Regions from separate parts of the Homo sapiens genome. Here all the other regions are reported to be linked to region 3. Evidence: microRNA targets listed by miRTarBase, many of them from high-throughput screens and not tested one by one. Region 3 holds a microRNA gene; each other region holds the end of a gene's coding sequence.

Region 1 (7,126 bases), not on the chromosome of region 3:
GTTTCACCTATAGCTCCTCTGCCTGTGGTGGACCTGAAGCTGTGTTGTCAGCACCTGGATGGGTATTGGACTCCCAGCTCCAAGTCCCTAGCCCTCAGGGCCTGATATCTGGAACCAATACCACACAGGACACTGCAGTGTCTGTTTACAACTACTACACTGCCTTTTGTTTTTCCTTTTGTTTCCCTAGAGATTTTGATTTTTATTTTTTAAAGCTCAGCTAGAAATGTAAATTTTTGTTCTAGTTGATCTAGTGTTAATCTATGTTTGTAGTGGGAACGAGGCACTAGTTATATCATCTTAGTGTGCTGTGTTGCCAGAAGAAACCATGTTTTATACACACAATTTGGCACCTTTTTATAATTAAGCATTCTTCCTTATCATTTCCATCCTCATAAATATCCACTTCTTTAAGTTCTAAAGAAATTAAGTCTCCCCTCAGGACCATCTAGATTGTGAGTGCACATGAGGCCAGGCCTCTGTAGCAGGCTGGATTACTTTCCAGACACACCACCAGGTCGTTTAAGTATATCATTCCCCTGGGGTCTAAAATTTCTTACCACAGTGAGTTTCAACTTTAAAATAGTTTAGTAGCAGAACCCTTTCTGCAAGTATTACCTGGAACCCCCAAATACCAAACAAATAAGAGGAGAGCTTCTCTGGTTGAAGTGGGGTTGAGAGTTCTGATCTCACCAACTTATTTTCCTTGCTCCCTGCAGTGCTCTCCAAGGTGCTCCCTGGGCCATCTTCATAGACTCCTTGGACTCCAGGAAGGTGAGATAACGAATAGATCAGTGGTTCTCAAAGTGTGGTCCCAGAACTAGGAGTATGGGCATCACCTGGGGATGTGTTAGAAATGCAAATTCTCAAGCCCCCATCCCAGATCTACTGAACCAGAAACTCTGGGGGTGGGACCCAGCAATCTGTGTGTTAATGAGCCCTCTTGGTACATGAGGACCTCTGATGCATATTAAAGTTTGAGAAATTACCAGAATATTGCATTCAGGAGCTACTGGAACAAGGCTGAAGTGTTGCCCAAGATTAACATTTCTTGGGTGCTTAAATTAACCCAAGCTTCTTTGGAAGGTTATTTTCCATCCACCATTTTCTTTTACCTGAGTGATATTACAGACACTCTTGAGACACTTTCTTGTACCTGAGTGAGATTATAGACATTCTCAAGGCAAAGACACAACTTTGCAATGGCCTGAGTCCCTCCGAATTGATTCAATATCAGGAGGCTGAGGTGGGAGGATTGTTTGAGCCCAGGAGGTCGACACTGCATGATTGCACCATTGCACTCCAGCCTGGGTGACAGAGTGAGACCCCATCTCAAAAGAAAATAAATAAATAAAACAAACAAACAAACAAATAAATCACAGGGACGAGTAGGGATTCCTACTCTTAGTTCATTAGACAGAAATAATGAAGTTCCTCCTAATTTTTCTTGACAAAAAGACTTCAGGCTGATCTCATTTCACAGAGGCCAGCCCACTCTCTCCTCTCTGAGAGGGTATTACTTTAAAAAAAAAAAAGACTCGAGGTCTGAAGTTCATAAAATGACTATCGAACAAAAGAAGCCAGACATAAAAGAGTACATGCTGAACAACTGCATTTAGAGAAGGTCTAAAGACAGACAACACTAATCTACAGTGAAAAGAAGTTAAGATAGGTGTCTTTGAGTTCTGGGGAATGTTTTGTTTCTTGATCTGGATGCTGCTTACAGGGATATGTTTACTTTGTAGAAATTCATCAAGTTATAAATGATATGTGCACTTTTCCTGTATATTTGATATACTTCAATATAAGAGTTTAAAAATGGCACTGGGTCTCACCTGCAGAGCAAGTGTGTAATGACACACTGTGGTGAGTGCTGGGCTACATACTTTCAGAGGATCTGGGCCTTCGTTTCTGGGTGTGAAACATACATTTGGAGGAAACACAGGTTTCTGGCACCAGGTCTACTGGATTTGAAAGTAAGAGTTGCGTGGGGGCCACTCTGTTTCTTGATCGGAAAAAGGCCTTTTGGTTGATGGCGTCCCTGATCAGAATTCCCTGTAGACAGTGAATAAGTGAGACAGTTACCAATGTGACCTGCAGGCCAGAGTCAGTTTTAGCATCTGGCTACTCCAAGAAATGGTAAATGGCAGGGTCCTGGATTTCTAATCAAATTATGCCACGAAATTGTGGGAAGAAATGTGTAATGGGTGACAGGGCAGTATCTCATTGTTTGGTACATGGTTCTGAACTCTGTGGGTGGTTAATGCCCCCAGTTGTGAGCACCCATATTTCACCTGTGCCCCTCTGAGTCCAGATCACAAACCTACATACGAACCAAGTCTCCCAGTCCTAACAGTATGTGGATGTAAATGAAGTCTCTGCTAAAGAATTAGCTTAGCTGGGCGCAGTGGCTCACACCTGTAATCCCAGCACTTTGGGAGGCCAAGGCGGGTGGATCACCTGAAGTCAGGAGTTTGAGACCAGCCTGGCCAACATGGCAAAACCCTGTCTCTACTAAAAATACAAAAAATTAGCTGGGTGTGGTGGTGGGCGCCTGTAATCCCAGCTACTCGGTAGGCTGAGGCAGGAGAATTGCTTGAACCTAGGAGGCAGAGGTTGCGGTGAGCTGAGATCACGCCATTGCACTGCACTCCAGCCTGGGCGACAGAGCAAGACTCTGTCTCAAAAAAAAAAAAAAAAAAAGAATTAGCTTAAATTTCACTGGTTCTTGTCCCATCTGCTCATCTAGGAACTCCAGCCCACATGAAAAATAACCCAATTGTGTCTGCAAGTCCCCAGTAGGTTACAAACCAATCCGTTTTCACCATCTCCCATGTTCTTTCTTACTTATTCTGGGCCCCTATCTTTGTGTACTCTGACCATGAAGCTGTTTGAGAACTAGTTACCCCTTCCCTCCCCACCCCTGCCACTGCTGTATTTGTGCTCACCGTGGGAACGTTAGTGAAGGTGCCAAGGGTGCTACTTCCTGATACCCCTAAAGGCCCTAATCGTGGAGGTGCCTGACCATGTGCCAGACATTCTCAAACATGCCTGGATCTCAGTTTGAGCTCAAGGTTAACACATACCTGCTGAATACATGATGCCTTGGGTTCCACGATGGTATGATCTGAAGGCAGGCTCTGGCTGCTGTTACATTCCATTGCTCAATTTGGGGGTTAGTGACTCGTAGGGGCATAGGACTGGCCTTGAATGGCTGCCCTGTTGCTAAGGGACAATGCTGTTTTCCAGATATAGGAGGCATGAGGTTCAATTAGAAAGTGCCCAGCACAGCTGCTCCCCCTGGCGGTCTGTGCCTTCCACCAGCCGAGACAGGGAGGTCAGGTTCAGCATCTCTTGCCATTCATAGCTCTCAGTGAGTTCCTCTTAGAACTATGGTTGAGTGCAGGGTATTTAAAAGGGTTTTCTGTATCAGACAAACCCAAAATGAGGAATGTGCTATTAAAAATGTGAATGTCATACAAGATGAAGAAAGGTTGTGGAAATGTTCCAGATTAAAGGAGGCTAAAGAGAGATGACAACTAAATGCAATACTTCACCCTAAACCAGATCCTGCAATAGAGTGGGAAAATGCTATAAAGGACCTTACTGGGTCACCAGACAAAATTGGAATACAAATCGTAGATTAATGTATTCTATCAATGTTAAATTTTCTGAAGCTCTACTGTAGTGATGTGGGGAATATGCCTATTTTTAGGAAATGCACACTGACATATTTAGGCATGGAGGGCCATGATATATGTAATTAATTTATCTTCATATCGTTCAAAAATACACACCCCCATTTATAAAAGAGTGCACATGTGCAAATGATAATACAAATGAGGTAAAATTTCCCAACAGGTAAATCTGGTATAGAGCATACAGATGCTCTTTATACTATTTTTTATAACTTTTCTGTAAACTTGAAATGATTTCCAAATAAAAATGTTTAAAATTTTTAAAGGTCAGTTTCTGTGCAAGCAGTCAGGATCTGGTGGCACAGGCCTGCCTGGACTCTTCCCCTGGCAGAGATGAAGAATGAGGACATGGCTGTGTTCTTCCAGGTAGGGATACCAGACCCATCCCAAAAGGTAGTCAGACACCCTGCACGAAGTTGCCAAGTGCCATCCAAAGTCACCCATCTCTTGAGCTCCCCCATCCTACAAGACACCAAAAATAACAACTTTTTACATTTTCTCCTGAAAATTATGAGCCCTAGGTGTTAATGAAATCTCGGTTATGAAAGGAAGGTGTATTGGTTCATTAACTCATCCATCCATTCATTCATTCAGTAAATGTTTTGAATACCTACTTACCATGTGACAGGAGCTAAGGGAATGAGAATGCATCCCAAGGTACAAGAGGAGACACAACTCCTGTCCTAAAAAAGCCTATAAGCTAGTTGTGATGCACCCACAGCCACGTAAATAAACATATATTTCCAAATGAGTTGACCATGAAGTAGACTTGGGAAGCAATGGGGAGCCCAGCCTTTTACCAGAGCCAGTGGATCCAAGCCCCATGGATGTGATACGCATTCAATTTCCCTCCAGGATTATCTAGGTAACAATTACTTTTGTACCTGATGCTGATGAGAGAAGGACTCATAGTGCTTACCCCATCCTGGGTTCATCCCATCTGTTTTGGCTTAGCTCTCTGCAGGCTGCTCTGCCCTCTGACAGTATCAGGGAAGGGGCCAACAAGCCACTCTATCAATATCCCTGGGCTGATGGGCCAGTGAACTTTGGAAAACAGTCTTTCTACTGATCTGTGCCTGTGAGTAAACATAGCAACCGAACCCATAATGTTTTTAGAAGACGAAGACCACCAAATTCCCTCGTGTGCAAGCCTGGCAGCCTACTGGCCATGAGAGTCCCATCACTGGGATCTGAATCATGAAAGCAACATGACTGTCCTCCAAAAGGACAGAATAATGACCTTATGGGACAGCTGTGGTCCTTTCCACCCCCAATCCCAGGTGGCACCCACTGTGATGCCCTGCACACAAGGGACAAAAGTGGAGTTCATTGCCTTGGTACTCTAAATAGACAGCATTGGGGAGGGAGTTGTGGAGAATGTGTGTGTGACTGTATGTGACATGATGTGTGTCCCTTCTGTCCAGGGGTCTCAGGCAGGACTGACCCCCACCTCTGATGCATTCTGGGCCTGGTCCAAAGAAGTTTCAGGTTTGGATCCAACAAACGTTTACTGAGTCCCTACAAAGTTCCAAGCCTTTTACTTTATACTTTGACACATTTTTATATCATTTTATCTTTAACAATAACCCTTTAAGGTAGGAATTATCTGCATTTTACAGATGATAAAACAATCGCAAAGAGGTTCATTGATTTGCTCAAGTATATCATACAGCTTTTTTTTTTCTTTTTTTTTTTTTTTTTTTAACACACACACACTATACTCTTAGCTGAGGCCTGTCTGCGTTGGTTGCTTATCTTACAGCATTTCTTGTCTTCTCTACTTTTGGAGCGACGGCTCCCCTTTTACAAGCCCCCTTATTTCCTCTCCTTTCACTAGCCCAGGTGGGCTTTTCTTGTTTTAATACTGCATTTAATAGCACAAAAAATCACGAATACAAAGAAACTGGCAAAGGTGTTTGTCAATGATATCCCTGCCTCCTCCACTTTTCTGCTTTCATACCCATATATGTAATGGGCTACATTTTTTAGAAACTTTTCTTTTTCCCCCCAAACATATAACTGTTATGTGATTGGTCAATTGAAGCTGAAACACCCATGGAGAAAGATGTTTTACGGTTACAAGGGCACACTCCCCCCCCACCACCCCCCTCCCCCCCACACTTTCCCACACAATCTTTTGGAGGAATATAGGATATGTACCAGTGTCAGCATTTTCCTGCTCCTGCCTTCCTCACCCAGAGTGTTTCTACCATTTAATTTCCCTTTCATCAACTGCTTAGACTAGAGCCTCTTCTCCCTCCCCTTCTATTTCTCTTCCAATCAGGACCTTTTGGACACTGGGTACTGTTCAATTCTTACTCTGTCAGGCCCATGGGCCATGGTCAAGTAGGTCCTTTAGATCTCGATGCCAGTTGTAGTATTGGTGTCGTCATCTTCCATTGCAGGTAGGTCTGTGTGTCACTTCAGTAGGCTTGTGTGTTCATTTCTTTCACTTTTTCTGACTCATGTTCTAGCACCTGTTTGTGATAGAACAGTAAATACCCTTCACTGTCCAGTACGTCCTTAATACTGGCCTTAGTGATGACGGCATCATCACACTTGAACCACTGGTCCTTGTGGTGCCGGATGAAGCTGGTATAGTGGCCACTCTCCAAGGTTCCTTGGTGATTAACCACAGCAAACAAGGAATACTTATTTTCGTTGTTTCCACTATTGGTTGGCAGCTGCAATTGTCCATTCATTCTGCTCTCTTTACTTGAGGCCATAAACGGCGTCATATCCAGCTCCAGAGGAAAGGAAATGTATGTAGTGATCTTGCGCCTCTGTTTCGCTGAATGTTCAAACCGTTTGAAATGAAAACAGGCAACGACAGGTAATTTATTCATTGTGAGCTGTTTGGTAGATTCCTGGTAGCTTTGGCAACTACCACATTTGATTTTGGCACTGCTTCCTAAGTGCTCTGGCCTCGTAAACCTCCGCAAGCAGTCCGTGAGGGTGGTGATTCCTGGTATGTGGCTTTCCCCGTTCACACTGCTCTCCCTCCCTGGGCTCATGGGCCAGAAGGAGGTGCAAGAGCCAGGCAAGTCCAAACTAATGTCCCAGCATGGGTCTATCGTGGTGGAGACGCCATGGCAGGCTTGACAGGTGACATCAGACTGCAGGCCACCTGTGAAGATTTGGTCTATGATGCAGTTACAGTGGTTGGGATTGTTGGCCGCCTTCCCGACATCATCACCTTTGCAGTGCCTGTGCAGGACATCTAACGCTGCAATGAGGAACTCGTGGGCATCCTGTTGCCTGTACCCTGCTAAATGGCGGGCATGTATCCACACCAGGTGCAGTAACTTATAGGGCACATGAGGAGACGGGTTTCCAGAATACAACTCCCGAAACAGCGACGACATCTCACAGACCAGACACAACTCGGGACTCGGCATCTCACATCGGTGCCTGTCAGAGAGAAAGAA
Region 2 (7,126 bases), not on the chromosome of region 3:
CCCGCCTCAGCCTCCTGAGTAGCTGGGATTACAGGCATGCGCCACCATGCCTGGCTAATTTTGTATTTTTAGTAGAGACGGCATTTCTCCATGTTTGTCAGGCTGGTCTCGAACTCCTGACCTCAGGTGATCCACCCTCCTCAGCCTCCCAAAATGCTGGGATTACAGGGGTGAGCCACCATGCCCAGCCCAGAATGCATTTTAAAAGTAACAACTAGAGGTAGAAAAAGTAGAAACTGGAGGTAGAAGGGTTAGGCACTGGAAGCAGTTATGCGGTAATTGATGTGTAGCTGCAGCTGATGCATCTCTTTGTTTTGTTTTGTTTTTCTCTCTCCAGCTATTTTTTATGAAAATACTGGGAAAGACAAAGATGTGGCATTTTAAAAACACTGGGTTTTTTTTGACAAATTGTTTTGGGATAGAGAATTAAACAATTTTTCCAAAAGTAACTACTAGAATAATAATTAAATTAAAGGAACTGTTGATTTTTTAAATATTGTTATCAAAATCTAGTATTAGAAAACTCTGAGGTTATCAAATCTCATATTTCTTACTATGCTCATAAATTTAAATATTTAAATTACTGGGTACTAGTCTTAAACTCCAAATGGGATGTGCAAAGCTATAGTTTGGCAAGAGACCTCCTGTTATGATATTTTCCCACTTTTGCTTGAGATTATTATCAATCTTTGCTTTAAGTGAGATTCATTTCCCAACCGGGTCCAGTCTTTATTTCAGCAGTTTCATCTTCCTTAAGACCCTCTGAACTGACCTATCTTTGGATATGTACAAGAATTACTAAACACCAAGAAAACCAATGGATAATCTGTGAAGATATCATGGGGCATGAATTTACAGAACTATGCATTTATCTGAAGAAAGACTTATAACCAGTAATGGTGTATTTTTAGTTTTTAGAGTTTTGTTTGCTTTGTTTTGTTTTAATAAATGACATATTCGGCAAAAGTTATAGAAAAGAAGAGCAAATACATTCTAAGAAATTATAATAGAGAAAGGGCCTTAGGGAAGACTGAAAATGGGAATCAGATTCATAATTCCATGATTTTTAAAGAAGCATTTACAGGTTGAGGTTGTCAATCCCTTTATATCCCATGTAACCCAAAGAATAAAAGAACAACATATGGATACAACTTAATATTGCTTTTAATACACATATTCTAATTGATTTTAATTAATTCTACTAATTTTTTTTCTAAACATTTATATATCTTTTTTTCATATTAAAACTGTTTAGGATATGTAAGCCAGGCAGTCTTTGATTCCTGTGTTTAAAAAATGAACTGATTTCTACATTACAATAATGGAAATTGTTGATTTGATTCTAATTCAAGGTTTACAGTGTCCTGAAGGAAGAGGACAATTTATGGTTTGGGAGGTAAAAGCATGCATACCAAATTAGTTTGATGGCAATTATAATTGTATTTCTTTAGGCACAATTACTGAAAAACACTTGTTAAGGACATTTGTCATCTAACAATTATAAATTTGGCAACAGTTACAACAAAACAACAAAAGCTCCAGAATGTTTAAAAGAAATACAGGAAGCAGAGGCATACTTTCAAGTGTCAAAAAGAAATATGGGATGGTTTGAGGAAAGCAAAAGTCTTCTTGTGATGAGGCTGACTAAAATGTCTCTCATAATGGGAAAAGTTTCACTCTCAGACTTGTTAATTTTATTTCATGTTCGAAGACATGCTTATTATAAAGAATATTTAATTTAAGGTTTAACAGTAATTAAGCAAGCAAATATGCAATATTTCAATTAAAGTTGAACTTGTTTTGTCTCTTAAACAAGCGAACTATCTAAAAAGTAGAGGCTGCCTTGTAACTGTTTCCTCTCTCACCAATTGCTACATCTGACTCTCAATCTCATAAACAAATCCATCAATATATAGAGTATAAAATTTGCATGTGAAATGGAGGTATTTTAGAAATGTTCTCCAGTTAATATGGCTTATAATAGCATCAAATGCATGCCTTTCACAGACGGCAAAACTTCTTGGCCAAACCCTGTATTGCTTTTATGAAAATATCAAATATATACATACCTTATTAAATTAGAAATGAGGCCTATACGTCTCAAAGCATAGAATTTAACAGTTGCTAATATTGTCATAATATTTTTCTTGACCTAAAAATAACAACTGTTGAAAATACACACACAAGAATTTTAGAATTTGAGAATATATCTTTTATTTATAGGATGAGAGTGTTAACTCTGAGAGAACATGGTATAATGAAACATATTAAAGACAGCATATTACTTCAATAAGTAACTGTGGTAGTAATGTTATTGTTAATTTGTATAATGTGTGTATATATTTTTCTGCATTTAAATTTTTCATTAATGTTTTTCCTATGAATATGATCAAATTATGACATCTATCATAAATAAATGTCATATTTTATTTATTTTAATTTTATATTCAAATGTTTTATTTTTCATCTTCTTTCCCCACCAAACACACTGATATGTAAATGTAATTGAGACACTTACAACTAATCTATGCAGTGTTGAATGCTGCTCCTGCAAAATACTCCATAAGCTAAAATTAAGTTACTTAGATATGTGGCAAAAAACCATGAATATGTGAGATTATATAGATTTGTTTTATATTAAAATAAATGCACAATATTTTAGCCAGCAATGCAAACTTATTATTTACATAAATCTTATATATTAATTTAGAGTATCATTAAAGTTTGTAAGTGTGCACATTTACACACATACCCATATACATATGCATATGTGTACATACTTATGTATAGTAACTCCTAAAACCTGTAAATGAAGGTTAGGTTTTAAAGGCTAAAAATGTGTACATGGCTGCTACAGGATTATACCTGTAGCATTAATATTGACAACAAGATGGTGTAAATTTGTCAGGCTTTTTCTTTTGATGTCTTAGGCAGTGAGACCACCTGGAAATAAAAATGAGAAATAAATTTAAAAAACACATTTCATAATTAAGATATCCTTTAACTAAGGTATGTCTGCCAACAGTAAGGGAATAACTGATACAAAAAAAGTATGATGGAGCAACTGGCATAAGGGAGTGTAGTATAATGGGAAAAAAAATGTCTGTCATATAGGTACCCCATACTTAAAGTCCTTCTTCTAGTCCTACAAGAATGTGCAAACTTCCTAGGTTACTATTTGTCAGGATCGAGTTACAAAAACAGAAACTATTCTTAGTCTTTCAAAAAAGGGACATTTATCACAAGTAGTTGATCATATAGCTGCATTAGGTATATATGATTTACTGCATTGACATTTCTTTTTAAGATCATTAAATGATATCATACAATTTAGCTGAATAGATATTAGGGAGTGAGAATTTTATTGTTGTTATTGTTTTCTCCTTAGAAATTTTAATAGTATGCTTTGGGAATTATAAGGCTTTTAAAGGGGCTTTTTGTTATTTCTTTAGTGGCCACATATGTTAGTAATAAACAGCCCCTACCCAGTGTATATAGACCTGCTTTACAATATATTGTCACATATATATAGTTGTATATGTGTATATAGTTGTATATGTATATATTGTCATATATGCATATAATCTAAGAGCTTTAATGAACATATTTTATAACATATGTATAATCTGAGAATTGAAAATACTCCATAGACTAACAAATCTAAAAATCACAATTTAAAAATGAAGAAACTGAAAATTTTTTTAAATATTTTAAATAATGTGTACTTTGATTTATATAGGTCATCTCTTTGTGAAGTATATATGCATGCTCACATAGAAACTCATACACACACACACATGCACATAGGCTTTCATAGAAGATAGGTATTTAAAGATGTAAAAATAGAACAAATTTTTTCCACTCTGAATGTGCCCAAATTACCAATGTACTTTTGCTTTGCAAGTGCATACAATCCATTTGAAATATGCATATATTTGTGTATGTGTATATATATGTGTATATATATACACATATACACACGTACACACATATTTTGAAATATATTTCAGAAGATGTATAAATATAATTTACATACAAATATAATCTATATATTTCAAAATATATATTTAGAATGATTTTCAAATAATCTACAGAAAATATTTTAATTGTAAATTTCAGTATGATAACATACAATGTCTGTATTATTAACAAATAAGTACACAACTAAATAAAAATGTTACACTTTTAATATAGCTATAATTTCCGCAAGAATTTGAACTAATGACATAATACCTATGACACATCTCACTAACAGATTGAACAATAAAAGAATTAAATTATTGTCAAAATAATGAGATTCAAGTAATTTAAATGTCAAAACTTTAAAAAATATTTACTTTAAAAATCAGATACTTTTTAAATTAAATTTTATTTTTTGAGCGACATAAGAATTGAACATATTTGGGAGATACATAATAATGTTTCAATACATATAATTTATAGTGGTCAGATCAGAGAAATTAGAGTATCCATGGTTTCAAATATTTATCATTTCTTTTTGTTGGGGACAAAATCTCCTTTTAGCTATTTGAAACTAAATGGAATATAATGTTCTTAACTATAGTCGTCCTACAGTGGTATAGAACACCAGAAATTATTCCTCCTACCAAGCTGTAACTTTGTATCCTTTAACAAATCTCTCTCTAGTCTCCCTTTGCTGCAGCTTTCCCAGCCTGTAGTATCCTCTGTTTTATTTTTTACTTCTATGATATCAATTTTTTTAGCTTCCACATATAAGTAATAACATGCAATGTTTAACTTTCTGTTCCTGGCTTGTTTCACTTAACATATGCCCTCCAATTCCATCCATGTTGTCCTGAATGACAGGAATTCAGTTTTTATGGCTGCATAGTATTCTATTGTGTATATATACCACATTTTCTTTATCCATTCATCTGTTGTTGGACACCTAGGTTGCTCCTATATCTTGGCTATTGTGAATAGTGCTGCAGTAAACATAGGGTTCAAATGTCTCTTTAATATACAGATTTCCTTTTTCCAGTAATGGTATTGCTGGATCATATGATAGTTCTATTTGTAATTTTTGAAGAAAGTCCATGTTGTTCTCCACATGGCTGCTCTAGTTTACATTCCCACCAGCAGTGTCTAAGAGTTCTTTTTTTTTTCCCGCATCTTCACCAATATGTTATTTTTATTTTATTTTGAGACAGTCTCACTCTGTCACCCAGGCTGGAGTGCCTTGGTTTAATCATGGCTCTCTGTAGCCTTGAACGCCTGAGCTGGAGCAACCTCGAGTAGCTGGGACTACCTACTGGCATGTGCCACCACGCCCAGCTAATTTTTACTTTTTAAAATTTTTTTGTAGAGACAGAGTCTCAATATGCTTTTTAGAGACAGAGTCTCAATATGTTGCCCAGATCTCAAACTTCTGAACTCAAGCAATTCCCCTGCCTTGGCCTGTCAAAGTGTTAGGATTACAGATATGAACCACCACGGCTGTCATATTTTTTGTCTTTTTGAAAATAGTCACCTTAATTAGGATGAGATGATATCTCATTGTGGTTTTGATTTGCATTTCTGTATGAATAGTTAATGTTGAGCATTTTAAAAATATACTTATTGACCATGTATATGTCTTCCTTTGGGAAATGTCTGTTCAGATCGCTTTTTCATTTGTTAATCAGATTTTTTTTTTTGCTGTGGTATTTTGTCTTATGCAAATAGTATTGTGAAGTATTAATGAAGTAAGACAATTTTATTCAAGGACCAATCCCATGCAAATACATTCAGAGCTGTTCTTAGTTAATTGCATTTATAATTTATACTTTTTATTACCATGTGCATTTCTCTAAATTTAGTGAAATTTTACTATTTTATATTTTTACTCAGTGTATATACTGTTGCTCATGAATTGTTGGAGTATAATAGTTAACTATCCTTAACTAAGTCTTATTTATTGAATTTATATGTTGCTGTTTTCTATAGGAGATAAGATTCTTTTTTTACAATATGAATGGAATCATTGCTGATTTTCTATGAATATATGAATTGAATTTTCTCAGATAAATCTTATGTTTCTTTTGTGCCCACAAAGACATCTGGATACTCATCAGAAGTGTAAAAATTCCAACTAGAAGAAAAAAGAAATAATTATTATTTCTTTCTTATTTCTATGAAATGTTATATTAGGAAAAGGATCCCTAGCATGTTTAGCTTTTAAGATGTTTCTCAAATGTTGCATAATTTCTTATCAATTTTCATTATTCATACCCATTCCCAAGCAATAGCCAATCAATATCGCATGAATGAGTAAACACAGAAAATACATTAAAAATTAAAAATGAATCTACATATTTTATATACCACTGCCACAAAATATTCCCAAATAAGGATTTATTTTTGTACTTAAAAATTTTCAATAATAGTTGCCTGTATGCATATAATATTCCTCTACATGCACATAATATAATAAACCACATTAATTGTGATTCAAAACTTTTGTACAATATAACAAAATGGATAAAATGGACATTACATATGTCCCTTCTACTATATGGAAATCATGCAATTCAACTTCTTAGTGTGTGTTAAAATGCTCAGTATTCAAGATGAACTCTCATACAACCCAACTCTTCCTTTGAAGACAAAACACATACACATGCCTGTGCACATGCACAAGAAGTTTCAAGCGAAATGCGTTGTTATCAAAACTTCTTCTAAACAAAACTTCATTGCTTAATAAATACATTTGGATTACAATCCCTGGCTTGGATTAAGCAACAATTATACAGAGACAAAGAGCAAAAGTACTTCAATATATTTTAATACTGCTAAAAATCAAACTCAGTATGAAACTATGAAATCCTTTTACAATCATGCTATACTTTAGTACTATAATAACTTTTTCTCAGAAACCATTTATCTTAAAGATGCATTTATTTTGATTAATTATCAGTATATCTAGGTCTTACCTGGCAGTGTTTGTGTCATGACTGTGAAACTAATCCATGATCCAATCTGTTATATTAAAACTTAAATTAGCACATACATAAATGGAATCTAGTAATTTGTTCATTTGTGGCTTTAACAGGTAATTTTAAGGCTTAAAATATTAGAAAACTTATAGATAGGAATACATTTTCAAGAAATAATAATTTAATTTTTA
Region 3 (7,126 bases):
GGAGGCCAAGATGTGCGGATCACCTGAGGTTGGGAGTTCAAGACCAGCCTGGCAAACCCTGTCTCTACTATAAATACAAAAATTAGTGGTGGCCCGTGACTGTAATCCCAGCTACTCAGGAGGCTGAGGCATGAGAATCGCTTGAGCCTGGGAGGCAGAGGTTGCAGTGAGCTGAGATTGGGCCGCTGCACTCCAGCCTGAGCAACAGAGTGAGACTCTGTCTCCAAGAAAAAAAAAAAAAAAAGTAATCTGAGTACACCAACAGCAGATTCAAATTACTCAGTCTTCACAGTTAGCAACTTTAACTCAGTTCTTATTTAAAAACAAGGAAGTGAGTGGCCAAAGGAAGTAAATTTCTCTCTAGCATAACACTGTAGAGCACGCTAGTGGTAACACCCACTTTATTTGCAGTCCCCACTAGACAGCACACATTAGGTTACTCATCTCTTTCATTCCTTCTGTCTCCCCAGTGGCTAACATCATGCCCAGAACAGCAGAGTTGGTATCCAAATATTCACTGAATAGACAAATAAGACTCAATACAAGGGACTTGCCACTTGCCTAGTGCCCACATTGTGTCTGCCACTTGCCACATGCTTTCGATAGATTATCCCTTATCCACACAACTCTGCAAGCTCTGTATTATTTTTGGACACTTCACAGATGAAGGTCAGTGGGATTAAACAGCTTTCTCTAAGCCACACAGCTCATGAGTAAATTCAAAACCGGGTCTGTGTAATTTCAAAATTCCTGCTTATCTCACTCCAAACACTGCCTCTCCCTGGTCTGCACACAATGGTCTGAGTTCTAGGTTTCCGGCCTCACAGAGTAACTCTCATCCATCTTCTACCTGACAGTCTTTCAGAAATGAAGACTTTCCAGAAGCCAGTGGTCAGTCTGACCCTTTACACCGCCACTGTGGCTGTAATGTGCTTCTCCACAGTGTTTTGGCCTGCTCCAAAGTGGCTCATGCAGACCCTGCCTCTCCTCGCTACTTTCACACACAGCCTAAGAGGTGGCGTCATCACACTCCACAGCATCTCACCCATGACGGCGTCCTCGAGCTGCACAGACTGTGCGTCCGTCCTCAAAGGACAAAAGGCATAGGTCCATAGAGCTGCTGTCCAAAAGCATCACAAAGGGAAGCCAGCAAGCACTGCTTTCTATCACAGGGGAGAAGTTCCCAGCTGATTGCTGGCAGTGCTGCCACTGTCTTTTGCCCGTCAGAGGGTGAGTCAGAGAGAGGACTCAGGAAAACCTACTGTATTAGGCCATTCTCATGCTGCGATTAGGACAAACCTGAGATTGGGTAATTTATAAAGGAAAGAGGTTTAATTGACTCACAGTTCTGCAGGGCTGGGGAGGCCTCAGGAAACTTACAATCATGGTTGAAGGGGAAGCAAACACGTCCTTCTTCACATGGCAGCAGCAAGGAGAAGAATGAGTGCCCAGTGAAAGGGAAAGCCCCTTATAAAACCATCAGCTTTCATGAGAACTCACTCACTATTATGAAAATAGCATGGGGAAAACCGCCCCCATGATTCAATTACCTCCCACCAGGTTCCTCCCACAACATGTGGGGATTATGGGAACTACAATTCAAGATGAGAAGTGGGTGGGTACACAGCCAAACTATATCATCTGCATAGCAGGTGGCCTTGTCTCCCCATTCCTGGGCTCCCCCAGGGCAACCTGTCCCCCATCCCACTCACGAGGCTTCCCTCTAGGAAGCCGCTAAGAAGAGACCTGCCACCCACCTGCTTGCTCCACTTTGAGTGGGAACCACACCAGGGTCAACCTCAGAAACATCTGAAAAGTTGGAAGTAAATTCAGCAGTCTAGCAAAAGCAGTCTTCTGCAACTGAGGAATCCAGGTTGAGCGCTGCCATGACCTGTATTTGAAAAGCTGCCACCTTCCAATCAGGCCAGAGTTAAAGAGCAATTTGAAAAGAGCAAGAATTTCCAAGCTATAAAACTAGGGACATGATTCTAAGAGGATAAAACATTTTAAGATTGGTTTAAAAGCTTTTGAAAAATTTAAGGCCAGGCATGGCAGCTCACATCTATAATCATAGAGCTTTGGGAGGCCGAGGTGGGAGGATTGCTTGAGGTCAGGAATTTGACACCAGCTTGGGCAACACGGGGAGACCCCATCTCTACGATTTTTATTTTTTTTTTAATTAGCTGGACTTGGCTGGGTGTGGTGGCTCATGCCTGTAATCCCAGCACTTTGAGAGGCTGAGGCGGACGGATCACAAGGTCAGGAGTTCCAGACCAGCCTGGCCAATATGGTGAAACCCTGTCTCTACTAAAAATACAAAAATTAGCTGGGCGTAGTAGCACATGCTTGTAGTCCCAGCTACTCAGGAGGCTGAGGCAGGACAATCACTTGAACTTGAGAGACAGAGGTTGCTGTGAGCCGAGATCGCGCCACTGCACTACGGCCTCGGTGACAAAGTGAGATTCCATCTCAGAAAAAAAAAAAAAAAAAGCTGGACTTGATGGCATGTGCCAGTAGTTCCAGCTACTAGGGAGGCTGAGGTGGGAGCATCACTTGAGTCCAGGACTTCAAGGTTACAGGGGCTATGATTGTGCCACTGCACTCCAGCCTGGGTGACAAAGCGAGACCCTGTCTCTTAAAAATTTTTTGTTTTTAAATTCAAACCCAGTTTTCCTCAGGACTCTTATTAACAGCTATCTAAGGAATAGGAAGGGATGCCCTCAAACCGGGCAGAACGAGATGGAATTCTAAGTCATTTTGTCTTTTGCATTTCTGAAAAGACTTTCATTTTTCAAAGGACATCAAAACTGAAATGCCTTATAAATCCCTTTGTGTTTCTGCGTTCTGTTCAATGGCATCAATAAGATGGATGATCAGCAAATGGCATCAAACTCCATTTGTATTCTTATTAGAATAATAACACGTAAAATGATATGAAATGAAACAGCAGATTCCAATGACCTTGTAGCCCAATTCAATTACTATTTCACTAAATAACGACAAAACTGACAGTCCTCAAGCTGCTGAATTTATGAATTAAATTCAACTTCTCTTCTACATTCTGAGCAGGACTGAGTGGAAAAAGAAATGGTCAGTGAGGACTGGGGAGGAGTTTCCTTCTCTTTGCTATTTAATGCAACATCGCCAAGCCCACTGGAGGGAGGGGTATGGAAAGACAGTTTAAAAAGGAATATCAGGACCAGAAGGGAGAACTGATGGCCAGGGCCCTTGCTATAGTTTGCTCCTGCAGATGAGACACTGCTTTGGAAAATTTTATCATTAACCAAACTGCACTGATGCTAAAAGTCAATAAAGCCAAGTATTAAGTTGGAGCAAAAGTAATTGCAGTGTGTGCCATTACTTTTAAATGGGAAGCACTGCAATTACTTTTGCACCAAACCAACAGCATCAATCTTGCCTGCATCTTAAGCAAAGGCTTAATGAGAAAAAAAACATACTTGAGACTACTAAAGCATTATACAGTCAGTCCTCATTACTAGCAGATTCTGTATTTGTAAATATGCCCATCACCTAAAATCTGTTTGTGACCCTCAAATTAATACTCCCAAATGTTTGCAGTCATCATAGACATGGCAGGACAGTGGACAACTGGAGTTTCCCAACAAGCACGTTCCCAGGTGGCGTCTAACTAAACAACACTCTGCTTTTTTGTTTCAGTTTTCATACTGTAAGGAAGCACCCTTTCCACAGTCTTTTTAGTGCCACAAGTTTCGCATTTTTGTGTCTTTTTGTGTCTGTGTGTGCACCTGCATGCGTGTATGTGTGTGTGAGTGACTTCACTATTTAAAATGGTCCAAGCCAGGTGCAGTGGCTCATGCCTGAAATCCCAGCACTTTGGGAGGCTAAGGCAAGAGAATTGCTTTGTGACAGGAGTTCAAGACCAGCCTGGAATATACTAGTCATGTTCATTGGGGAATTAAGACCTCAAAAACATAGCCAGACCCTGCCTCTACAAAAAAATAAAATTAAAAAATTAGCTGGGCATGGTGGCGTGTGCCTGTAGTCCCAGATATTTGGGAGGCTGAGGTGGGAAGATCACTTGAGCCCAGGAGTTTGAGGCTCCAGTGAGTTGTGATTGTGTCACTGCACTCCAGCCTGGTCAAGAGGGCGAGACCCGGCATCTACAAATTTTTTCTTTAAATAAGAAAAGAGAATAAATTTTAAAAATAAGAAATAAAATGAAATGGCCCTTAAGTATGGTGTGGAAGTACTATTTGGCATTCCTAGGCTCAAGAAGGCTGTGATACACCTTACACAAAAAATAAGTGCATTAGATAAGCTTAGTTCAATGCTAATGAATCAATAATATATATTTTAAAAGGTGTCTTCAAACAAAAACACAGGTAAAATAAGGATTTTTGTTGATTGGTTGATAAAAAGGTAACCAAAGACTCACAGGAACCTAACCCTGTATTTCCCCTAGGAAATTCAGTATTAACTAATAAATTCAGGACTCACTAATGCAGTATTTAGGGCAAGTTTATAGAACATCAATACTGTGAATAACAAGAATTGACTGTATTTTCAAACTGCAGTAAAAATGCCATAAGTATGTAAAATAGGACTTGTAGGAAGACAACAAAGTATATTTAGATGTAGCAGGTTCATCTTTTTTACTTTTTTTGCAGATGTGAGAACTTGACAATTTCTAACCACTGGACTTAGAATGGAGAACACAGCCAATCTGGGTGACAGAGCAATATTCCGTCTCAAAAAAAAAAAAAAATTAGCTGGACTTGGTGGCATGCACCAGTAGTTCTAGTTACTTGGGAGGCTGAGGTGGCTGGTCATGAACTCCTGACCTCAAGTCTCCCAAAATGCTGGGATTATAGGTGTGAGCCATTGTGCCTGGCCAGCAATGGCAATATTTTCTTACTACCAACTCTCAGAAAACATACATTATTCTCCATAATTATCCAATAAATTTGGACCCATCTGAAAATAAGCATCAGTCACTTTTCAGTTTATACATGTATGCTATTAGTCATTACTCTGGTAATATGTGAAATGTAAATCATTGCCTTATTACTTACTGGATATGGGCTGTTTTTTGGTTGAGGTATGCGTCTAATTTATTGGTACTACATTAGAAAATGCCCTACACCAAATATCTGCTCTGATTGGACTAAGATCCTACATTTTTATATTTGGGAATATTGCTCAACTTGAGAAAGGCAAGATGTCCCAATCCCTGCAACAGTAACTTGGACTTTTTTTTTTTTTTTGAGACAGAGTCTTGTTCTGTCGCCCAGGCTAGAACACAGTGGCACGATCTCGGCTCACTGCAACCTCCATCTCGTGTGCTCAGGCGATTCTCCAGCCTCAAGCCTCCCGAGTAGCTGTGATTACAGGCATGTGCCACCACACCCGGCTGATATTTGCATTTTTAGTAGAGACAGGGTTTCACTATGTTGGCCAGGCTGGTCTCGAACTCCTGACCTCAGGTGATCCACCCACCTTGGCCTCCCAAAGTGCTTGGATTACAGGCATGAGCCATGGCGTCCAGCCAATAACTTGGACTTCTAATTAAAGATGTGACGTGGGCCAGTTATGCATAGAGGTAAGCCAAGGGCCTCTTATGTGACACCCTCACTGGACTGGGACAGATTCTGCCATGTCATTTACCTTGAGTACTCCAAAAGGAAGAACATAAAAATAATAATGTAATGAAAGTAGCAAGGGTATGTTTAACTTCAAAGAAGATCATTAATACTTAGCCTGGACTGTCTGAGAATATGACTAGAGAAAAGGGAATGAAGGAAAGAGGAGTACTTAATCTATGCTTATTGTTCAAATGCTCTTCTCTGCTCACACTTTGCAAATGTTAATAAGAGTCTGATCTCTTGATAGTAACCATAGGGAAATTTATCAGCCTCTAAACATAATTTCTCCCTTTTCTCTATCCTGAGTCTCCAATGAGTTGGGCAAAATGCAGAGGCATCTCATTCATTCAGAAAATGCCATCTTTTCTCTCTCTCATATATGTAGTGTTGCTAAAATTAACTAAAAAATTAACTAGTTTTAATTTTCTTCTTCTTAAAGGCTTCTGTCCATAACTGTCCAAGGCGCAGAAGGGCACAGACTTTTACGCAATGAGAGTCCCCTGACATTCTGCTGTCTAAGACTTCATTCTCAGAGTGCAAGGACCAGAGAAAGAACTGGGGTGGATGCTATTCCACGTTTGCTCTTTTCATTAAGACTTTTCAAAGAAGACTTTATTCCAACATGCATTTAAAAGAAAAAGAAATGAAGAATTCTTCCTTCAGGCGAATAACTCATAAGGGGAAAAAAACCCTTGAATATGATTTATTTCACAGGGATCATTGAAGAGCACGTGAAAACCGATCTCTGTTGAAATTCCGAAATACTTGTTAATGCCACCTTGAAAGAAGTAAAGAATTTCGAAGTCAGTTATTAAATAAATCCATGACTATTTGAACAGCTATCTCAATTTGGCTGGAATGTGGCTAGAATTCGAGTTATGTACATTGAGTTTGAGTAGAATGTGGCTTTGACAATGAGTCAACCTTAGTATTTTCTTCCCAACAATGATGGAGCGGCTTGGTGAATGCAGAGCTCCCTAGAGTAGCTTTTAGAACTCGTACTCTCCTTTCAACAACAGATTGCTCAGTTGAGAAGTTTTAGAACTGAATGAAAACTCAGGCATCATTTAGTTATTTGTGCAACTTGAATATTTTTTCCAATAAGATAACCAAGGCCAAAAAAATTAAGTGGAAAAAATGTCACACATCGAGTTAGAAAGTAGAACTAATCTAGATTCAAGCACTCCTAGCTACTAGTCCAGAGTTCTTATTACTAACCTGGACCTGCAGTGAGCACCACTGACATCCCTAACTGAGTAGTGACTTCCCTAGTAATCTCCCTTATCTAATTTTACTGCATAAACACATTGCTATCTGTTACAGGAATGGGATCTTAATCATGTAGAGAGAAGGGAAAACAAGGCATGAGGAACCTTTGAACCTTATTGCTAGGCTTCAAGTAGAGAGATGTCAGGTTGTCTCCCGAGTCCACCCTTCCCACCCAATTTCCTACTCTCACGAGCATCCCATGGGCTTTGGTCTCTCTGTGCCTCTTGTAACCA
Region 4 (7,126 bases), not on the chromosome of region 3:
GCCACACAGAGGTAATCATTTCTACTAATGCTGCAGTCCCTGGGATGTAGTCTGGGAACGGCAGACCCCTATGGTTTCAGATTATCCCAAAGCTAAGAGAGAGATTGACGCCATCAAACTGAAGGTGGAGGCATGGGCAGGAAGCCTGTGGCTAAGAGACAGACATCATAAAGATGGGCTCTAAGTTAAAGAAACTGGGCTCCTCTAAATCTGGGCCTTTATCCTATGGAGTTGCCGGAGATCAGATTTACCAGCATCTGAGTTTTTATTTATTTATTTTTTTAATAGAGACAGGGTCTCATTGTATTGCCCAGGCTGTCCTTGAACTCCTGGGCTCAAGCAATCCTTCCACCTCAGCCTCCCAAAGTGCTGGGATTATAGGTGTGAGCCACCGTGCCCAGCCTCAAATGGGTTTTTAAAGTTTTATTGCCAAGGAAATGTTGATGGCCTACAAACAGGAGCCTAGGATCCCTGGCCTCAACAGAAGTGTTCAGGTGCCCCTCCACACACCTCCTGTAACCATGCCCACAGGAAGAGGCTGCCACTTCACCCCCAGGCAGGTCAGCCATGGAACGCGCTGCTGCAAAGCAGGACCAGAGGCTCCCAGACTGGCTCACTCGGAAACCCACTCCTCCACTAGCAAGAGAAAGGATACCCTTTAAACCAGTGACCACTGTATGTAGTTTTCCCTTCTCCTCTTTCTCAAGTGGCAATTTGTAACCTACAGTGCCTCAGTTTCCTCAACTGTAAAGCGGAGGATATTTGTATTTACCACATGGGATTCATGTGAGGATTAAATAATTTAAATAAAAAATGCTTAGAATAATTCCTGGGAAAAAAAAAAGTGCTCAGTTAGATTTGGGTGTCGCTCTGCTAGGTCAGCCATCCTCCTTCTCCTCCATCAGTGTGTCCTGAGTGTGTAGAAAATGGTTGTCCATTTATTTCATTTTTCTTGAGTTGGGGTCTTGCACTGTCTGCCCAGGCTGGAGTGCAGTGGTGCAATCAGATCTCACTGCAGCCCCAAACTCCTGGGCCCAAGCAATCCTCCTGCCTCAGCCTCCCAAGTAGCTGGGACTAGAGGCATGCACCACTGTATCGGCTAATTTCTTTTATTTCTATTTTTTGTAGAGACAGGATTTCACTGTTGCCCAGGCTGGTCTCAAATTCCTGGCCCCAAGCAATCCTCCCACCTCAGGCTCCCAAGTCACTTCACCCATTTCCTCCCAGTCCTGGCACAGCCCTGCATACGTAACTGATACATAGAACTTAGATAACAAAAAGTGACTGAAAACTACTTTATTTGAAGACATTTTCTTCTATAGTTCTAAACACAAAAGGAATGCTGTTATAGTGGGTATTTCATAGGCATTCTTGTATTCAAATGAATCACATAATGTTTACACTTTTAAGCTAGACTTGAAATTGAAGACTTAATACAACCTTTTAACAAAGAAAGTATCAGTCATATCAAAACATAACTATTCATTCTACAGATTATCACTTTCCCTAAAATGACTACTAGATATGAAAACATTGCAGGGACAGCTCAAGTGCCCCATTCTTAAGGGTTTTTTTTAATAGGAAAAATGACAACGTAAATCACATTTTCCTTTTCTTTACTAGTAATGAACTATGGCAATCCATTTGAGAAAGCACCAGCCAACCGTACAAGTCATTTCAGCACCCTTTGCTCTTCAAAACTGACCATCTTTTATATTTAATGCTTCCTGTATGAATAAAAATGGTTATGTCAAGTACAGACGTCAGCAACGTGTCAGTTGGTGTGAATTTATGATGTGTTCCTAAGTCAACAGAGAAAATAAAAAAAATCTCTCATGTGAATAAAATCTAAGGATGAAAAACTATCCTTTGATAATTATCACAAGGCAAAATCAACCACCTTTTCATCAGTACTAGTGTGGAATGGAAATTTCTTTATTAATACTTTTTATGGGAATGTTTTAAAGGCATAGGTATAAATGCACATGCAATCAGCTTGCCCCTCTTAGATACTAACTTCCCCAGCTTCACTCCTCCTTTTCACTGGAACAAGCTGCTGAATCCCTAACTCCAAAGTCTGCAGTGCTTGGTGAGCATTTTTAAATAAAGATTATATGTGATTTTCACTTTTTCACAAAAATGAAGTACAGAGAAGACTGAAAAGCAGTGAGAAAAAAATCATAGAGCAAAAAACTAAAACACAAGATGTGATGTTCAAATTTAAAAGAAAAACAAAACTGGTTCGTGATGATTGTTAGTAAATCACAAAAACAAAGGACGGACAGGGCCAAGACCGAAGGGACCACCAGACCACCGAGCCCCAATGTGCCAGACAAAAGTGGGCATCTTTGAGAAGGACGCCCTGGTGAAGACAATTACAGTGAACCTCTTTATAAGGCCGTAAGCTCTTCAAGGTCATGGGCCGTGACTTATTTATGTCTGTATTCTGTTCTTAGCATTGTCTTGCACATGACAGACACTCAGTATTTCTGGTAACCACAGAACTGGAGCTCAATCAGCTCACTGCTTTCAAAGTCATTTTGGTTGGTGTCTACCCACTTAATTCTTTCACTCCTCTGTCTAAGGCAGGGATGGCAAATAGCCTTCATTTCACTCTGATGGACTGGGAATAGATGTCTGGAAGCACCAATCTGACATGGATTCTAAGACCAAATCCTGGCACAGAGGACAGGAATGCTGCACTCATTCATAATGCCTCCTTAAAAGAGCGGTGGCACAGGTGTTATATATTCCCCATTCCTGGTCTAGGAAAAAGGCATCCAACACCTACTTATATTCCTTTTACATTGCTATGCTGCCTCTTGAGTGATCTGCATTAAGCCACTGTTCGTTAAATGCTGGTTGATCAGGAAGACCAAGGCCTTTCCTCTCAATTTACGTCTTTGGCCAAACAGGTAGGGTCAGAACTTCACCTGGAAATCTGAAAACACATCATCCACAATGCTCAATAGGCAACAGTCCATTGAAAGAGAACAGGTATTTACTTGATTACTCCCTTTGTAGAGAAAGAATTTTGCCCATCTCAATGGTGTGTAGCTTTCATTGATATCTAAGGCATTTGGAATTACTTAGGATCTTGGTGTTAAAAAAAAAAAAATGGCAGGGTTAAATTCTCTTTGGTTCTCATTCTAATCTTAAGACTTCTGTTTGTTTCTTCCTGGTACCCATAACCTTCTCAGCACTTCGTCGTTGTGACTTAACCAATACTGTTGAAATAATCAACTCTTTCACACATTCATCAGAAAACCTTTTAAAGGATGCTAAGGGGAGAGGCCTCTGAAAATAAGTGGGTTGAAAGGAAAGCCAGAGAGAATAACAGGAAGAACCAACCTTCTAACAACCCACACACAGGACTCTCTACCATTCAGACTGCTATCTATAAAATAGGGTGCTTCTGGTCGGGGGGCTGCCACCCCAGGTCCTCCAAGCAACCCTTTTCCCCATAGTGGGAGGTCAGCATCCCTCAGAAGCATCTCAGGAAAAAATGATAAAGCATTTAGAGAATTGGGAAGAAAATAGAGGGATACTATCAAAGAGTAAAGGACAGTCCTGGGGGATGAAGGGGGATTTTCTTTTTTCTTTTTTTTTTTTTGGAGACAGAGTCTTGCACTGTCGCCCAGGCTGGAGTGCAATGGCACAATCTCGGCTCACTGCAACCTCCGCCTGAAGGGAGATTTTCAAAGCAACATTGCCTCTATCATAGGTAGTCTTCAATGTAATACTGGCACCAACAAGAGAACCGAGCTAAATTAAAACTACCCTCAAAATGTCATCACAGCTGATGTGCACAGCAGGAAGGACGATGTCACAAAATGCACAGATCTGTTCCTATTGCACATTCCACCTTTCCCACGTACTGCTGGCAGCCCAGAATAACCAAAATCTTTTTAGATGTCTGTCTTAAAGAGAGCTATAATATGCAAACATACACACACACACACACACACACCCCCACACACACACACAACCTCAAACCTGGTTTATAAAAGAGCTTTGTGGATCAGAGTACACCCTCACTTGGTCCAAGAATCTAATTGTCAACATTAGGCAAATAGACCCAATGAATGTAACCAGGAAGAGAATTAACTGGTTGGCTGGAATATTGTATTTGATATGATATGCTTATTTGCAAACTAATCTCCAACTGTTTGTCCAGTACTAATTCAACTGACTCATCTTCTAAATGTATAGGACAAAGCCTTTAAAAAGTTAAGCTCTTCAGCAACGAAAAGTTAACACCATCTAAAATAAATAGATTTTAAAATATATGTAATGAAATTACAGGTCACTGGAAATTCAATTCTACAATGAATATAAATTAACATTAAAATCTATTAAGTACTATTCCTGGGAAGATTTTGGTTCAGAGGTTTTATTTTTTTAAGGGCTTAATATTTGGGAATAAATGGGCATAGCTTAGAAACCCTTACAAAGTTGTAAGTAGACTAGAGGTAAGATTATTTGGTGACAAGATACAAAGATCTGTTTCTATGTCCAAAATAATGGCTTACCTCATTTTAGTTAATAGAAGTATTCCCAAAAAGTTGTGCAAATAGGCTTTTTATAACTGGACGCTTATTTTAAGTATACTAGAGGCCATGGTTGTAAAGAAAACCTGTAGTCACTCCTCTAATAAACTGAAGAACTCTAAGTGATTAGCCCCTGTCCTACATCTGCACAGTGGACGGCATACTCCAGGCACTCATAAGTGTTTGTTGAATGCATGAATTCGCTCTGACAGTTTTTTTTTTCCCCTACAGGACTTTCTTAAAGTGAGGCACATGCTAACTGAAATGGTTCTGCCCGCTGTTACTGCAGAAAGATGGAATCCAGCTCACAGTTTAACTGATGCCATTACAAAATATCAGATAATTTCAGAGTGTTTTCAATCAAAATAAAATTTCCATAAGTATGAGTGTATGTATTTTTGAGGAATGTTGATCTATGATTGGCAGAAGCTTTTATTGTTAACTCACTCACTGAAAACAACTGCTTGAGCTGAATTCTATTTCAATTAACAACCAAGGCAAGTAAAGCACTTTACCTAACTTCAGAAATACCACCAGAAACCATTCCACTTCTGTAACAGCTTCTTCCCCTCACTCCAGCACAAATATTTAAATGCTGTCCTTACCTTAGTCCACAAAAGCAAAACATGAATTACAAAGCTAAGATTAAATTAGAAAGCTGCCGACTTAAATATGACAAAGTTTTTTTAGCCTTAAAATAAGAACTAAGTCAAATACATTCAACAAAAGTAACTCTTAAAGGCAAATTTTTTTCTTATTTGGTGTTTTCTTCCCTTCCCATTTAAATTTAAGACTCAATTTTTAATAATATTCATATGTCCATTTTTCTAAATAATATATCCTCTTTAAAACAATACAGAATGCCTAGCAGTGCAACCTATGTGTCCACATAAATATGCAACCTGCCACATAAATAAAATAAGAGGTTTTATCAGTCTATTTATCCAGCATTTGTAACTGCAAAAAAGGCTGGAAAAATAGCTAAGAATATTTTTATGCAAGTTTTGGGGAGGACTGAACACTGGTAAGGATTCACTGTAGGGCTCCATCATTATAAGTTTCCTAAAAAGTAGTGTGCAAACAAAATATCTGAACACAGAACCCTAAACATACTAGATGTATGTGTGGGTATGGGTGATGGAGAAGAGAGAATGAATATGTTAATATGAATGCTTGTCAAGGACACTGATAAGAAAAAGAAAACCTCTCACTTAAGGTGCTAATGATATGTCAAGGGACCTAAATACAACAGATTTTAAAATCATCTTTACCATTTGTCCCAATTATTGACTTTGGCCCTTTACCACACAGACACAATGAATCTACATTTTGATGATCCGTCATTGGCCCAAGAGTATCATGTTTGGAGATGGATTTGCTCCCATAATTTAAAAATCAATAATTTAAAAAATAACAAAGTTGGTCTCTTTTTTCCACCAGTTTTCAAGTAATTAGTTCAAGTAAGCTTATTTACAGCTGCTACTGTATATATGTGACCTACTTTAACCCTTCTTTACCCTTTAGGAATTGGTCTCCCTTGGAATGGGACACCACATTTTAAAAAAAACTTGAACCAGGTTTTTTTCATCTACCAATTCAATTCAGTCATGTTTCTGCTTTATTGGGCAGATAAAGAGAAGAAACCAGCAAGTTATGTCCAAAAGCTGGAAAACGCCGAAATGCTTCCCAACTATCTGAAAAGATGTTGTACTTGAGGAACACTCGGTGTTCCAAGCTGGTCGACAGGGTGACGTCTCTGCTCATGATGTAGATGCCGTCGTTATGGAGCGCACAAGTCAAGTTAAGACCCGATTTGGACGTGTTCTCCTTGAGGTAGAGCCACTGGCGGGTGACGGTGTTGTAGGACTGCACGGTGAGCATGTCCTCGCTCTGGCTGCTCCTGCGGTTGGGCCCCAGCTCGTGGAGACACCCCCCCACGATGTAGATGGTCTCTTCCACAGACACCATCTGCTGCTTGCGAATGTGGACGTCACATGTTTCAAAGAGCGTCCACATGTCGGAAGAGGGGCAGTACTGCAAAATGTTCATGTTCCGGTCTGAAAGAAAGAAAGACAAGTGATGACACCGCCTCCACTAACACCACTAGGCAAGTCTGTACAGAAATGTCTACCTCTGCCTGCATAATTTGGTAACAAAGAGAAAAAACTCTTTCAGAAAAAGCACAAGTTAGAAAAACAGTTTTCAAAGTGGCTGGGAAGAGATATATTTAGATCCATCCGCACTCACCTCCCACTCCCAAACGTCTCTTCCGTGGGAGACTCAGACTGGATAAAACCAGGAAAAAGCGCAGCTCTGACTTTCACACAGCCCCTCCTCCCTGGTATCCCCACACCTTTGAACCACCAGGTCAGTGTAAAAAAAGTAAGTGCCTCAGAACCCTCATCAATAGCTACAAAATTACCGACTACTTAATACAGAAGCCAGGCTGGGCAGCAAGTAGATTATTCTTGATAGCTGATCCTAAGAAACATGACAAGTAGCAACACAGGATCTCCAGAGGCTGTCTAGTGAAAAGGACACAACGTTACAAGTCAGGAGAAAGGCAGCAAAGTCTC

Evidence for each region. Region 3 holds the annotated microRNA hsa-miR-603 (CACACACUGCAAUUACUUUUGC, at 3,333-3,354, opposite strand). A microRNA usually pairs through its seed, bases 2 to 8, with sites in the 3' UTR of a target mRNA and lowers its output. Matches are read on the target gene's strand: a 7mer-m8 pairs with bases 2 to 8, a 7mer-A1 pairs with bases 2 to 7 and ends in A, and an 8mer does both.
Region 1: miRTarBase lists USP27X as a target of hsa-miR-603. Seed matches in the 3' UTR shown: 7mer-m8 at 5,409-5,415.
Region 2: miRTarBase lists TECRL as a target of hsa-miR-603. Seed matches in the 3' UTR shown: 7mer-A1 at 3,983-3,989, 7mer-A1 at 3,975-3,981 and 7mer-A1 at 3,785-3,791.
Region 4: the mRNA of KLHL42 is a reported target of hsa-miR-603. Seed matches in the 3' UTR shown: 7mer-A1 at 3,948-3,954.

What each region holds. Positions count from the first base shown.
Region 1 is chrX:49,880,620-49,887,745 of GRCh38, reverse strand. It overlaps USP27X (ubiquitin specific peptidase 27 X-linked), which reads right to left. Exons shown (of 1, transcript NM_001145073.3): 1 at 5,188-7,126. The coding sequence ends at 6,122. Among named protein-coding and RNA genes, the nearest start is that of USP27X, 4.7 kb to the right of the region's middle.
Region 2 is chr4:64,274,109-64,281,234 of GRCh38, forward strand. TECRL (trans-2,3-enoyl-CoA reductase like) reads right to left here. Exons shown (of 12, transcript NM_001010874.5): 11 at 6,933-6,978; 12 at 3,594-6,091. The coding sequence ends at 5,964. Among named protein-coding and RNA genes, the nearest start is that of TECRL, 130 kb to the right of the region's middle.
Region 3 is chr10:24,271,973-24,279,098 of GRCh38, reverse strand. It overlaps MIR603 (microRNA 603), which reads right to left and starts at 3,414; the gene lies at 3,318-3,414. All of the region lies in intron 2 of KIAA1217, which reads right to left.
Region 4 is chr12:27,797,196-27,804,321 of GRCh38, reverse strand. KLHL42 (kelch like family member 42) reads right to left here. Exons shown (of 3, transcript NM_020782.2): 3 at 1,282-6,607. The coding sequence ends at 6,156. Among named protein-coding and RNA genes, the nearest start is that of MANSC4, 21 kb to the right of the region's middle.